2 linked regions of the Homo sapiens genome follow. The protein of the gene in region 1 purifies or fractionates together with the protein of each later gene. This does not show direct contact. Each region holds a gene or a part of one and is shown on either strand. Other genes may lie near its edges.

The links. The genes of interacting proteins can lie anywhere in the genome.
Region 2: the proteins of ECHDC2 (region 1) and CTU1 purify together in Homo sapiens (affinity purification with mass spectrometry; 3 studies listed by BioGRID and IntAct, with this or other methods). This does not show direct contact.

The regions. Positions count from the first base shown.
Region 1 is NC_000001.11:52,904,680-52,911,750, reverse strand, and holds part of ECHDC2 (enoyl-CoA hydratase domain-containing protein 2, mitochondrial), read left to right. Parts: coding exon 1-28; intron 29-97; coding exon 98-185; intron 186-3,796; coding exon 3,797-3,883; intron 3,884-5,139; coding exon 5,140-5,232; intron 5,233-6,314; coding exon of another isoform or gene 6,315-6,409; exon of another isoform or gene 6,410-6,660; coding exon 6,661-6,717; intron 6,718-6,917; coding exon 6,918-7,071.
Region 2 is NC_000019.10:51,105,410-51,113,113, reverse strand, and holds the start of CTU1 (cytoplasmic tRNA 2-thiolation protein 1), read left to right. Parts: upstream 1-4,704; 5' UTR 4,705-4,767; intron 4,768-7,704.

The DNA of each region.
Region 1 (7,071 bases):
TGCCTTGGGGAATGTCTTCGTCAGTGAGGTAAGAAAGGGCGGGCGCCAGGGTGGGCTGGGGATGGGCTGGCACTATCTAACTGGGTGTCCTCTGTAGCTGCTGGAAACTCTGGCCCAGCTGCGGGAGGACCGGCAAGTGCGTGTCCTGCTCTTCAGAAGTGGAGTGAAGGGCGTGTTCTGTGCAGGTAGGTTCTCTCTCCTGCCCCCATCTGTGCTCTGCAGGGTGCCCACCAGCCTCCAGGGGTTGGGGGAAACCTTAGATCAGCTTCAGCATGGGACTCATTGTTGCCATTTTACCGATGTGAATGCAGAGACTCAGGGAGGAAAATTCCCTTGCCTAGGATCACATAGCTAGTAAGGGGTAGGATAGACTTTAGTTTGAACTTGGCCTCTCTAACCCTTAGATCTTAGTTATTTCGGCTATGCCATGCTTTGTTCTGACCCTTCACGGGGGAAATAAGAAAATGGAGTCCAAGACGGGTACAGTGGCTCACATCTGTAATTCCAGCACTTTGGGAGGCTGGGGCGGGTAGATCACTTGAGGCCCGAGTTCGAGACCAGCCTGGCCAACATGGTGAAACCCCTTCTCTACTAAAAAATACAAAAATTAGCTGGGTATGGTGGCAGGCACCTGTAGTCCCAGCTACTCAGGAGGCTGAGGCAGGAGAATTGCTTGAACCCGGGAGGCGGAGGTTGCAGTGAGCTGAGATTGCAGCTCTAGAATTCCTGGGCTAGTTCCTGCCCCTCTCGGAGCTTCAGTTTCCGCATCTCTCACAGAAGGGCTGGAACTGATCAAAGATTTCCAAAGGCTCTCCCAGCTCTGACTTCCTGTAGTCTAGGACTGGAAGAGTCTATTTACTCTCTACTCCTGCTCACCCCTGCATCTGGCCTTTGAGGACCCCACCACGGTCACTCTTCCCGCCAAGGCGCTTGCCCACCTGCATGCCACCGTATCTTGTGCTCACTTCCGTTCTCGTTTACTTGACCTTTGACCTCTCAGCCTTCTTGGACCTTGCTGACTCTGCCTGTAAAAATTAGTCAAGTTTTAATTTTCTTATTACTTACATATTTTAGAAATTGTGGGCTGGGTGCAGTGGCTCACGCCTGTAATCCCAGCACTTTGGGAGGCCGAGGTGTGTGGATCACCTGAGGTCAGGAGTTCGAGACCATCCTGACCAATATGGTGAAACCGCGTCTCTACTAAAAATACAAAAATTAGCCAGGCATTGTGGCCAGTGCCTGTAATCCCAGCTACTCAGGAGGCTGAGACAGGAGAATTGCTTGAACCCGGGAGGTGGAGGTTACAGTGAGCTGAGATCACGCCACTGCACTCCAGCCTGGGTGACAGAGCACAACTCCATCTCAAAAAAAAAAAAAAAAAAAAAAAAAAAAAAAAAACGAAATTGTGGTGAAATATAAGTAACACAAAATTTACCGTTTTAACCATTTTTAAGTGTACAATTCAGAGTGGCATTAAGTACATTCACAATATTGTGCAATGTCACCGCTATCCATTCCCAGAACTTCTTTATCATACCAAACAAACTCAGCCTGTTCAGACAGTGACTCCCATTCCCCCTTCCCCTCCAGCCTGGGTAACCTCTATGGTACTTTGTCTCTATGTATTTATCTATTCTAAATACCTCATACCAGTAGAATCATATCATATTTGTTTTTTGGTGCCTGGCTTATTTTACTTAACATGTCCTCAAGGTTCCTCCAAGTTGTGGCAAGTGTCAGAACTCCATTCCTTTTTATGGAGTAACATTCTATTGTAATGAGTAGCATTCTATTGTATATATACCACATTTTGTTTACCCAATCATCTGTTGATAGATACTTGGGTTGTTTTCACTTTTGGCCACTGTGAAGAATGTCCCCAAATACATTGGTGTACAAGTACCGTCAGCCCTCTGCATCTGCAGGTTCCGCACCCACAGACTCAACCAACCGCAGATTGAAAATGTTAACAACAAAAATAACAATGCAACAACAAAAAATAATATAGATAAAAACAACACAGTACAACAGTTTACATAGTATTTACATTGTATTAGGTATTGTAAGTAATCTAGAGACAATTTAGAGCAAGCTTGTCCATTGTCCAACCCTCGGCCTCTGGGCCGCATGTGGCCCAGGATGGCTTTGAATGTGGCCCAACACAAATTTGTAAACTTTCTTAAGACATTATAAGATTTTTTTGTGTGGTGTTTTTTTTTTTTTTTTTAAGCTCATCAGTTACCGTTGGTGTTAGTGTATTTTATGTGTAGCCCAAGACGATTCTTCCAGTGTGGCCCAGGAAAGCCAAAAGATTGGAACCCCTGGCTTAGAGTATACAGGAGGATATATGAGCATAGGTCATATTGCAAATACTACAATATTTTATACAAGGGGCTTGAGCATCCATGGATTTTTGTATCTGAGGGGTCCTGGAACCAGTCCCCTACGGATAAGGAGGGACTGTATCTGTTTGAGTCCTTGCTTTCAACTCTTTTGGGTATATACTTGGGACTAGAATTGTATGGTAATTCTGTTTAACTTTTTGGAACTGGTTTCCACAGCAGCTGCATGGGTTTACACTCCCACCAGCAATGCACCAGGGTTCCATGTCTCCACATCCATGCCAACTTTTTGTTTTGTTTGTTTTAAAAGCCATTCTAATAGACGTGAGGTAGTATCTCATTGTGGTTTTTGATTTGCATTTGTCTAATGACGATGAGATTGAGCAACTTTTCAAGTGCTTATTGACCATCTGTGTATCTCCTCAGGAGAAATGTCTATTCAAGTCCTTTTTCCTTTTTTTTTTTTTTTTTTTTTTTTTGAGACTCTGTCACCCAGGATGGAGCGCAGTGGCACAATCTTGGCTCACTGTAACCTCTGCCTCCTGGGCTCACGCGATTCTCCTGCCTCAGCCTCAACCTCCCTAGTAGCTGGGATTACAGGTGCCCACCAACACACCTGGCTAATTCTTGTATTTTTAGTAGAGACACTGTTTCACCACGTTGGCCAGGCTGGTCTTGAACTCGTGACCTCAGGTGATGTGCCCACCTCGGCCTCCCAAAGTGCTGGGATTACAGGTGTGAGCCACTGCGCCTGGCCCTTTGCCCATTTCTGAATTGGGTTGTTTTGTTGTTTAGTTGGAGAAGTTCTTTATATATCCTAGATATTAAACCTTTATCAGATATATGATTTACACATATTTTCTTCCATTCTGTGTGTTGTCTTTTCTTTTTTTTCTTTTTTCTTCTTTGAAACGGAGTCTTGCTCGTCACCGAGGCTGGAGTGCAGTTGGTGCGATCTCAGCTCACTGCAGCCTTCACCTCCTGGGTTCAGGTGATTCTCCTGCCTCCGCCACCTGAGTAGCTGGGATTATAGGTGTCCGCCACCACACCTGGCTGATTTTTGTATTTTTAGTGGAGACAGGGTTTCACCATGTTGGTCTTGAACTACTGACCTCAGGTGATGCACCTGCCTCGGCCTCCCAAAATGCTGAGATTGCAAGCGTGAGCCACTGCACCCAGCCATTTCTGTGGGTTGTCTTTGTATTCTATTGATAGTGTCCTCTGATGCACAGAAGGTTTCCATTTTGATGGAGTCCAGTTCACCTTTCTGCAGTGTCACACCCTCCTTGTTTGATGCTCCTCTTTTCCCTTGACTTCCTTGCCCGGGTTCCTGGTGTTTCTCCTTCCTCGCTGGCTGCCTGTCCTCAGGTCTTCTTTGCTGGATCCTTTAACCGCCTGGGATTCCGTAAAGTGCCATTTTCCTAAGGGCTGGTACCAACCCTCGCCATCTGCAGGTGCAGACCTGAAGGAGCGGGAACAGATGAGTGAAGCAGAGGTGGGGGTGTTTGTCCAGCGACTCCGGGGCCTGATGAATGACATCGGTGAGGATCTGGGTGTGGGGTGGAGGAGGGGGTTTGGGGGTCCCTGCCGATGACAGTCCCGCTACCCCCACCAGCATCTAAGGAGAGTCTTCTTTCTGTTTGGAGTTCTGTGATAAGACAGATGACTCACCCAGGGGGATGGAGGAGGATGACCGAGGGCAGTTCTCTCAGAGAGGGAGTTCTGGCTCTTCAGCTTTTGTGTCCCGCCCCACCCTCAGGGTTCAAGCCTGGCCATTCCAAAGCAGTTAAGTTTCCCCAAGCATGCTTTCAAGTTTTGACAATTGCTGTTACCTTTGCCTGAGATACCCCTTCTTGGTTACTTGAACTTTTACTTGTCCTTCAAGCCCTCCAGTACCTCCTCCTCCAGGAAGCCTTCCCAACCCACCCTCTGAGCTTTTTATTGGAGCACTGATGATCCTGGGTCAATAATGCCTGATACACATTTGTCTTCCCCATGAGACTGAGCCCCATGGGAACAAAGGCTATGTCTGATTCATTCTGTGTTCCCAGTTCCCAGCACCCAGCACAGGGCTTGGCACAAAGAAAGGGAGGCCCCAGGGAGGCCAGCGGATTAGGCCTGAACAGGGATCATCCAGCCCATCCTCCCATTCCTCTTCCCTGGCTGATTCTGTAACTTTCCCTAAAGGGAAAATTGGCTTCTGAGATAACCTGGCTGCGGGAAGCAGAGGTTGTCGTGAGCAGAGATTGTGCCATTGCACTCCAGCCTGGGCAACAACAGCGAGACTCCATCTCAAAAAAAAAAAAAAAGAAAAAAGGAAAAAAAAGAGGCCGGGCGCAGTGGCTCATTCCTGTAATCCCAGCAGTTTGGGAGGCTGAGGCGGGCGGATCACGAGGTCAGGAGTTCAAGACCAGTCTGGCCAACATGGTGAAACCCCCGTCTCTACTTAAAAAAAAAAAAAAAAAAATACAAAAAAATTAGCTGGGCGTGGTGGCGCACATCTGTAATCCCAGCTACTCAGGAGGTTGAGGCAAGAGAATCACTTGAACCTGGGAGGCAGAGGTTGCAGTGAGCCAAGATCATGCCACTGCACTCCAGCCTGGGTGACAGAACAAGACTCCGTCTCAAAAAAAAAAAAAAAAAAGAATTAAGATAACCTGGCTGAGGTTCCATGTAATGTCCCCAGACCTGGGTCCACTGAGGCCTCTGTCCCAACCAGCTTGCCCCTCCCCAGCCTTGAGTCTCTGTCCTGGTCCCACCAGGGCTTTGCAGGCTGAGCCTTTCTTCCTCTCCACAGCAGCCTTCCCTGCACCCACCATTGCGGCTATGGATGGGTTTGCCTTGGGCGGAGGCCTAGAGCTTGCCCTGGCCTGTGACCTCCGAGTGGCAGGTACTGGGCCAGGACTGGGGGCAGGGGGTGGGGCTAGGGAGTCAGGGGTGAGTGAAACAGGGTGAGTCTGGACATTCTGCAGTCAGCCACTGTTCTTGGCTTCCAACCAAAAGCAAAACTAAGGCAAGGCAGAGCACAGAGGGTGCTCAGGCAGAAGCTGCTTCCCCTCCTGGTGCAGCCATTAGCTGCTGTAGTATCTGTGACCTGTCAGAACCTGCTTCCTTCATTTTGGGAATATTTGACCAACCTCAGAGCAATTGCTGTTACGAGCCAAGGAGGTCAAAGAGCAATGTCCAGTCTTCCCATTCTGTCCAAGTCAGATTTATCGACCATGTTTCGGAAAAAGGTGAGCCTCAGGGATAGTTTGTCAATGGCTGAGCTAATCACAAAGGTGCCTGGGCAGGAATACTGGCACCAGCCAAATTTGCATTACTTGTTCTGAGCAATTGAGCTTTGTTTGAAGAATGGGAGGGGATAAAGAAGATAACTGATCATTTTCTCAGGTGACTGACCTGGTGATTAGGAGCAGCCTTCTTGGATGCAGTTAGGCAAAGTCTGAATGTCTTCCCTTCTCCCCCCACCGCTCTCTCCTGCCACCCCAGGAGCAACATATAAAAATGTGTAGCTCCAGGCATGAAAGTAGCTTCTGTCTACACAATGCAGGTCAAAGAGAAGGAACTGACCAGGTGTCCAGGCACCAAAATACCAGGCTGGTCTAGCCCCAACTCTCCTTCTCACATGCCCACGTTCACGCAACTAACTCACAGGGTTTTGGGGAAGACTAAGACGGAGTGAATGTAAAACCCACTCCCTTCTGCCCACGTTCACATGGTCCATGCTGAGGGAATTCAGAAAAGGAGACAGACCCGGGGGGGTGCGTCAGTCAAGGCAAGTTTCTCGAAGGAAGGAAGCAGAACTCAGGAGGACATGGACTGGAACAGTCAGGGCAATTTCAGGCTGTGACAAAGCTGGAACGGACGACTGTAGCAGGAGCAGGAGTCACTGACATTCTAGGCCAGGCCAGGGCTAAGCCAGAGAACCTATTAATAGTAATCCACAAATAGATATGGGGCACCTCCTAGGAACTCTCCTTGTTCCAAGCGTCGTACCTCGTGTGATCCTTAGCGGCTCTCTGAAGCAGACAGAAGAGGGCCAGCCATCTTTCTTCCACCTTTGAGGCTTGGGAAGGGTGAGACTTGCTGGTGACTTACAACTCCATCAAAGGGGCATGGTGAAATAAGGGCCTGGGCTCCTGACTTCTGGGCTAGGGCTCTTCCAAAGGCAGAGTCTGGAGAGGCCTGGCTGTGGCCAGACCATGGGGCAAGTGGCTAGAGGGGCGAGTAGACAGCAGAGGCAGCTGTGGCCCCCGGGATTAGCACTGGGGGACCGGATGGGGGAGGGAGGCCTCACTTTGTTCTATCTGAGCAGCTTCCTCGGCAGTCATGGGACTGATTGAGACCACGCGAGGGCTCCTCCCGGGGGCAGGTAATCGCAACTACAGCACCCGCCCAATTCCACCCCATCCAGGGTCCTTCGCTGCTTTCCTTTTTTGCCCTCTGTTCTGGGCTCTGCCCTCCCACCTGAACCCTGCTCCTCTGAGAAGTCTTGGCTGAGTCCCAGGCTGAGCCTTCTCTGGGTTCCCACTTCCCATGCTGATTCCCACCCTGCTCCCTCCATCCTGGTAGGAGGGACTCAGAGGCTGCCCCGTTGTCTGGGGGTGGCCCTGGCGAAGGAGCTCATCTTCACGGGCCGACGACTGAGTGGAACTGAGGCCCACGTACTGGGGCTGGTGAATCACGCTGTGGCCCAGAACGAGGAGGGGGACGCCGCCTACCAGCG
Region 2 (7,704 bases), on another chromosome or scaffold:
TGCAAGACATCGGGGGGAGCCACGAGAAGTGCAGAGAGAAGAGAGGGTGCGAGGAGGAGCTGTGGAAACTCACATAAAAGGCTCCTGGGATGAGGAGAACGAGAGACAAGGCCAAAGAGAAACAGAGGGCCCTTCAGAGAGTGTTGCCAACAGAGAGTCTTTCCTGGTGCCTCCTCTGGCCAACAAAGTTTATTAGCACTGCTGTGGGAACCCAGGCAGACCTACCATTTAGTAAGGAGATGCAAAAACTAACAAGAAGGCAGTGGGACAGAGCTGGACTTAGGGCAAAATAAGGACTGTTTGATACACTACAATGAAAACAGACAAACCAACCAACCACAGACAAAAATCCCGTTCCTCAGTAGGCTCCACGGGTGAACGAACTCTCTTCATGCAGAAATTCTACCCAGGGAAGCTTCTAGCCCTTCGAGGGGTGGGGAAGCAAGTGCTGCCAGTAACAAGCACCAGATATAGGAAATGGCCCTCAGAGATGCACATTGATGCTGCAGGAACCAAAGCTCCCAGAGCTGGAGAGAGACAGCTGAGCCCAGCCACCATATCTTCCACCAGACGCGGATTGCTTAGGATGGCAGCTAGATGACCTGGAGATGGCAAGGCATTCTGAGGCTGGAAGGGTGTGCAGGGACCAGATCATGCAGCACCTCCGTTGCAGTCTGCAGAGGTTTGACAATGGAAAGCCTGATGGCAATGGGGAGCCATGGAAGAGTTTCGAGAAGGGGAGAGACAAGGTTAAATCTGGGGCTAGTGTGGGAGGATTCAGGAATGAAGGGATTAGAGGTTGGGGTGAGAGAGTCCAGGCAAGAAACGGCCGGCGCAGTGGCTCACATCTGTAATCCTGGGACTTTGGGAGGCCGAGGTAGGCAGATCACTTGAGGTCAGGAGTTCAAGACCAGCCTGGCTAACACAGTGAAACTGTGTCTCTACTAAAAATAAAAAAATTAGTTGGGCATGGTGGTAGACACCTGTAATCCCAGCTACTCCGGAGGCTGAAGCACGAGAATTGCTTGAAGCTGGAAGGCGAAGATTGCAATGAGCTGAGATCATGCCACTGCACTCCAGCTGTGGTGACAGAGTGAGACTCCATCTCAAAAAAAATAAATAAATAAATGAATAATTTAAAAAAAAGGATGAGCTGAGCCAAGGCAGGGCCACAAGGATGAAGGGAATGGTCTGAGAAACTTTCAAGAAGCAAAACTGGCAAGTTTCACTGAACAATGGGGAGCAGTGGGTGAGAAAAAGAGTCAGCGAAGTGATTCAGGATCCTCACCTAGAGGCTGAAGCATGCCAGTGCCACCACCAGGGGCTAACTGTGCAGGTCCGAGTCTCGGGATGCAGTGGAGATATGCAGGAAAGTGGGGAGGCATCAGGGCAGAGACGGAAGTTGCGGGAGTGGCAGGAGTGGATGAGCTCACCTGGGGAGTTTGCAGAGAAATGACAGCGCTGTGGAGTACAAGGCTCCTGGCAAGTTGATTGACATGGTTTGGCCAGAAAGAGGACCAGGGAGGGTAGATTTTGTGGTCAGGGCAAAGAGACTCAGAAGTAGGTAGAGCCCAGGTTAGACCTTTATTTGTCAATAAAGAGGCCACTGGTGTTGATCGGGAGACTGTGTTAGGGGAGACAGGAAAGAAACCAGACAGCAGAGGGCTGGGAGTGAGAGGGCTTCTCATGGCTGACCTCACCTCTTTTCCCATCTATCTCTGGAGCCCCAAATATCCCACTCTTATCCTGGTCCCACAGAGGAGAATGGGGAAACTCTATACACCCCGATTCAGCATGCACTCCCACATTGTTGCAGGACAGAGGCTGCCTCTGAGGAGGAGAACTAGACAGTGGGTGGGTGGGGGGAGACGACAGGGAGACTTCACTGTAGAGTCTATGCACTGTTTCCATTTTATAGCATTTAAGTGCATAACCTGATTAGATAACATAAATTGCATTCAAACAAAAGGCACCCTGTGCTTTCTTGCCACAAGATCTTTCTTTGCTCAGGCGATTTCTTCTGTATTAAAAGGCCATTTCGACCCTCAAATTCTCAACCTCCTTTGCCACACTTCACACCTCTTCCAGGAGCAAGCACAGCTTGGAGACTAAGGAGACAGGCTTTGAGCAAGGAGCTACAAACCAGAGACCACCAGCCAAATCGGGCCTGCTGCCTGTTTTTACATGGCCCACAAGCTACAAATGATTTTACATCTTTAAATGGTGTAAAATCTTCAAAATTCTTCAAAAGAAGAATATTTCCTGACACATGCAAATTACATGAAATTCAAATGTCAGTGTCCATCAATAAAGTTTTATTGGTATACAGCCACCCTCACTTGCTTATCTTATATCAATGGCTGCTTTCAACATACAACAGCAGAGTTGCCACAAAGACCCTGTGGCCCACAAAGCCTAAAATATTGGCTACCTGGCCCTTTACAGGAAAGGTTTGCAACCCCTGCTGTAGAGTCAGGCAGTCCAGGGAAGTGACATCACTGAGCTTCAAGATCCTCACCTAAGTAGAATTACAAGGCTGGGCATGCTGACTCACACCTGTAATCCCAGCACTTTGGGATCACTTGAGGTCAGGAGTTTGAGACCAGCCTGGCCACTATGGTGAAACACCGTCTCTACTGAAAATACTAACATTAGCCAGGTGTGGTAGCGCACCTGTAATTCCAGCTACCCAGCAGGCTGAAGCAGGAGAATCACTTGAATCCAGAAGGTGGAGGTTGCAGTGAGCCGAGATCGCGCCACTGCACTCCAGCCTGGGTGACATAGTGAGACTCCATCTCAAAAAAAAAAAAAAAAAAAGAAGAAGAAGAATTACAGTTGTACCCAACTCATATGTAACATATAATCTTAATGTTATGAGAATTGAGATGAGAATAATAACCACTTGTTGAGCACATACTATGTGCCAGAAGCTGTTCTAAATTCTTTAGAGGTGTTGTTAATTCAATTTGACTTCGCATAAATCCTATGAGGCAGGCTATTATTGCCCCCCTTTCACAGATGAACAAACTGAGATGATGCATGGCACATAGCAGCCTTTGTTGAATTTTTTTTTTTTCTGACACCCTGGCTGGCAGTGATTGAAATTGAGCTTTCAAGGCTCTTAACACTTCCATGTCAAGCTTTATCACTCCATATTGACTAAGTCCCTGTCTCCCCCACCAGGAGGACAGGGTGGTGGTGTAAGGGGTGGGGGATGCTCAGAGGACAGTAACCAAGTCTGATTCATTTGTGTCACCTAAACCTAGCCCAGGGGCAGCCTGGCACAAGGAGACCTCAGGAAATAAATTCAACAAATGAACCAACGCACACAGATGAACAGAACTGGCCCATGATAAGGCTTAAGAGTGACCTCACGGAGCTCATTTAATATGAAAGGAAGGCATCATGGTTTCCTGTTATGGGGGAAAAAAATGGGCTACAGGGTGCATGGGGTTCCTTCTCACGTCATCACCGGCCGTAGACCTACACATCCTGGGGCTCTCTGCACATCTCCACATCTCAGTCTAAGGCTCTGGTGGTCCCTTAATCTAGAGGATTTTTTTTTTTTTTTTGAGACAGAGTCTCACTCTGTGGCCAGGCTGGAGTGCAGTGGCGCGATCTCGGCTCACTGCAACCTCTGCCTTCTGGGTTCAAGCCATTCTCCTGCCTCAGCCTCCCGAGTAGCTGGGACTACAGGCGCGCACCACTACGCCCAGCTAATTTTTGTATTTTTAGTAGAGATGAGGTTTCACCATGTTGGCCAGGATGGTCTCCATCTTTTGACCTCGTGATCCACCCGCCTCGGCCTCCCAAAGTGCTGGGATTACAGGTGTAAGCCACCGCGCCGTCTAGAGGAATTTTGAGCCTCAGTTTTTTCGAGGACCTAGGTTTGGGGACCTGGATCTCAAGGGTCTCAGATATCTGAGTCCTTAAACTCCTTGTGCCCCGGTATTTGAGTCACCGGGGTCTTCAAGACCCTTGGGCCTTGTGGGGAGGGTGGAGGCCTCCAGATCCCTGTGTCTAGGGTGCAGACGGTTGTCTCCAGGTCTACTGGTTCTCTCAGGTGCTTTGGTGCCAGGGGTCTGCGTTTTTAACCCCCTTAGTCTCAAGGGTCTGAGTCTCTGAGCCTCTGGGCTCCTGGGTTAGGTGAGAAGGGTCTTTGGATCCTTCTGTTTAGAGTCTGGGTCTCCAGCACGCGCATCACGACAGCCCCCGCGTGCGCGCGGAGTTCCACTCCAATCCTCGAAGTCTGCTCTACGCATGCGCTATCTGCGCCTTTTACACTAGCGACCAACCCCTGCAGTTCCACCTTCAATTCCCACCCGCAACCCCGCCTCAAAGGGCAGAAATCATAGGCCCTGTAATCCCCTTAAAATCCTATAATAATCCCACAAAATCAGTTAATCAGAATACAACTACTTCGCCCATCCAGCAACCTGCCGGGTGACAGCGCGCTGCCATGACAACAGTACACGCAGCTCCGCCGCTCCCTGCGGCCGCGCGCAGGCGCAGAAAGTAAACGCGGGGGGAGGGGGAGCAGTGTATTTTGGGAGCGGCAGAAAGAGCAATGCAAGTGTTTCTGGGAGTTGTAGGCCAAGCGGGACCCCGGAGCCGTAGGCGCATCCAGCGGAAGTGTCGCATGGGCTTCTGGGAGTTCTAGGCAAGAAAGCCCCAAGACCTTATGGGAGTGGTAGTCTCGGAGTCACTTCCGGGCCAGGCTTCCGCGTGGTGGGCAGTGTGGGCATCCCAGCACTGAGTTCTGCCCGGGTGAGTATTTCCTCCTGCGGTGGGTCGGCATGTGGACTCCGGCTCTTTGTTGCGGTGCCGTGGGAGGGTTGAGGGTCTCTTCGAGCGTAAGGCCTCTGTGATTTCCCAGCGCCCGTGTCCCTGAGGCCTTGTAGCCAGGATTCCCACTTTGAACGCTGCGGTCCGGCCTGTCTCTTACCGGGCCACTCCCTTCCCCAAGACAGGATAAGACCATCTGCTTGCCCCCGCCCCTATGTTACTATCTGCCTGTCCCCGCCCCCATGCCACACATTATCTGTCCTTTTGACAAGGCTGCAATCCAGAGGCATCCCTGGGGTCCGCGGCCTCTCTTCTGGGAGCACTTATTATTCCCTCATCCTACAGATACTTACTGAGCACCGACTCTGCGCAGGGCGGCGGGAGCGAGGGCACCAGACCAACCCTGTCCCTGCCTTGAAGCAGAGAGACAGACCTGTCACCAGTGACAGCTAGTCAGGATCAGGGCAGCTCTGAGGGCCCTGGTGGAGGCGCTCGACTCAGTGACGAGGGTCCATAAAGTCTTTGAGGGAAGACGCTTAACATGCATGTCAAACCTGACGTGGCCAAATGGAATTCCTGGTCTTCTCACCTCACAAAATGGCCCCACCGTCCCTCCAATGCTCAGGCCAGAACCTCAAAGTTACCCTTCATCACTTTCTCTCGTCGTTGCCCCAGTCCCCACTCCAATCAGTCTTATACAAGTCCTGTGGGCTCCACCTTCAAAATAGATCCAAAATTTCACTTCTTCCCACCTCTACTGCCAGCACTCCTGTCTAGTGTGCTGACCTCCAGCCTTCTGTCCTTGTCCCTGACAACCAACAGTCCTCCCCACACAGCAGCCAAACGAATCCCACTTTTTTTATTTGAGACAAGGTCTCACTCTATCACCCACGCTGGAGTGCACTGGTGCGATCATGGCTCACTGCAGCCTTGACCTCCTGGGCTCAAGTGATCCTCCTGCCTTGGCTTCCTGAGTAGCTGGTACTACAGGCCTGTGCCACCAGGTGCAGCTAATTTATTTATTTATTTTTTTAGAGATGGGGTCTCGCTATGTTGACCAGTCTAGGAATCCTTTTAAAACATGCCAGATCATACCACTTTACTGTTCAAAAACCTCCCAAGGCTCCCATCTCCTCCTGAATAAACCTAAAATTCCACATCATGGCCTATGAGGCTCTGCTAACTTGTGCAGCCTTGTCCCCTGCGAGCGTCTCCCTTCCTCAGGACGTGGACCCCCCAGGACTGGGTGACTGTAGATTTAGGGGGTGAGGAGAGATGAGTCCAGGGTGACGTTACGTCCTGTCCTGCAGATGGGCTGGATGAAAGGTGGTGGCTGCTCTCAGAAGAGAGGGAACAGATGGGCAAGAACAGGTTTCTGCCTTTCGAGGAAGAAATAGGTTGTCTGGGCGCTTAGGGTCTGAACATCTTTAAGGTGCCCCAGCCATGTGGAGGACCAGCCAGGAGGGACATCTGAATATCATGATTCAGAGGCGCTCATAAGAATGGAAAGAAGCTGGGCACAGTGGCTTACGCCTGTAATCCCAGCACTTTGGGAGGCCGAGGCGGGCGGATCACTTGAGGTCAGGAGTTCAAGACCAGCCTGGCCAACATGGTGAAACCGCATCTCTACTAAAAATACAAAAAAAAAAAAAAAAATTAGCCAGGCATGGTGGTACACGCCTGTAGTCCCAGTTACTCGGGTGGCTAAGGCAGGAGAAACGCTTGACCCTGGGAGGCAGAGGTTACAGTGAGCCGAGATTGTGCCACTGCATTCCACCTGGGTAACAGAGCCAGACTCCATCTCAAAAAATTAAATTAAATTAAATTAAAAATCTTTAAAAAATGGAAAGAGATGGGTGCTAGGCAGGACCTGAGGACATGAAGAGGCGTCCCCAAAAGAGAATTGAGCAGGAAATCCAGGAGCACAGAAGGAGTGAGTCAAAAGTCGGGGGAAGAAAGATTCCAAGAGTTGCTGCTCACCTGTGACAGATGTTCCCGACGGTCACTGCAGATGAGTCCTAAGGGCTGCTTCTTGGGCTCAGTGGCAGGAAGAGTACTCAGGGCAGAGGGGAGAGCCAGTGCAAACATCTGGAGCAGGAGTATTCCTCAGGTGTCAGAGTAAACGACATCAAGGCTGAAGGAGAGGAGGTTGGAGAAACAAGGAGCCACACATGTAGGGCCTCATCGGCCATTAGCAGTTATTATACTAAAGTGAGATGGGATCCAGGGGAGGATGCTGAGAAGATTCAGGGCATGATCCCACTGGCTGTTATGTGAAGGAGTGTTTGTAGAGGAGGCAAGGCGGGAGCAGGAGACCTGTGGGGAGCCCCATGCAGCCGTCCAGGAGAGAGACAGACCAGACTAGGGTGCTGCCGTGGAGACGGTCCTAAGTGTTTGGCTGTTTTGAAACTACATTCAAACAGGATTTGCTAAATTTCATTTAGGTACCTGGAGTTTGAAAAGGTCCGGACTTGGCATTGCAGTTTGGTGCCACCCACTGGGAGCATGACAAGTGCAGTGAGAGAAAGAGCAGTCCAGGGTCCTGGACCCCAAAGCTCCTGGCCTGAGCAGCTAGAAGGATGGAGCTGCCCTGTACTCCAGGAGAAGCACGCTGGGTTAGAAGAATCAGGAATTTGGGTTTTGAGATGCCTATTAGACATCTGAGTGGTACTGGTCTCTGCCCTCATAGAAGTTAGAGATGGTAAATATATAGTCACATAAAATAATTCCACACATTGTGGTAAATCCTAGAAGCAGCGTGACCTGCTCTGAATGGCAAGGAGGTGACTACAGTAGTCCAGGCTGGAGGTGATGGTGGCTTGGGGAGGAGAACTGAGCCTGGGGAGTTTTTATGGGTTCACCAGGCAGGCAGGACCAGGATTTGACTGGAGGGTTGGAGTCTAGGCTGGGTGGGGAAGA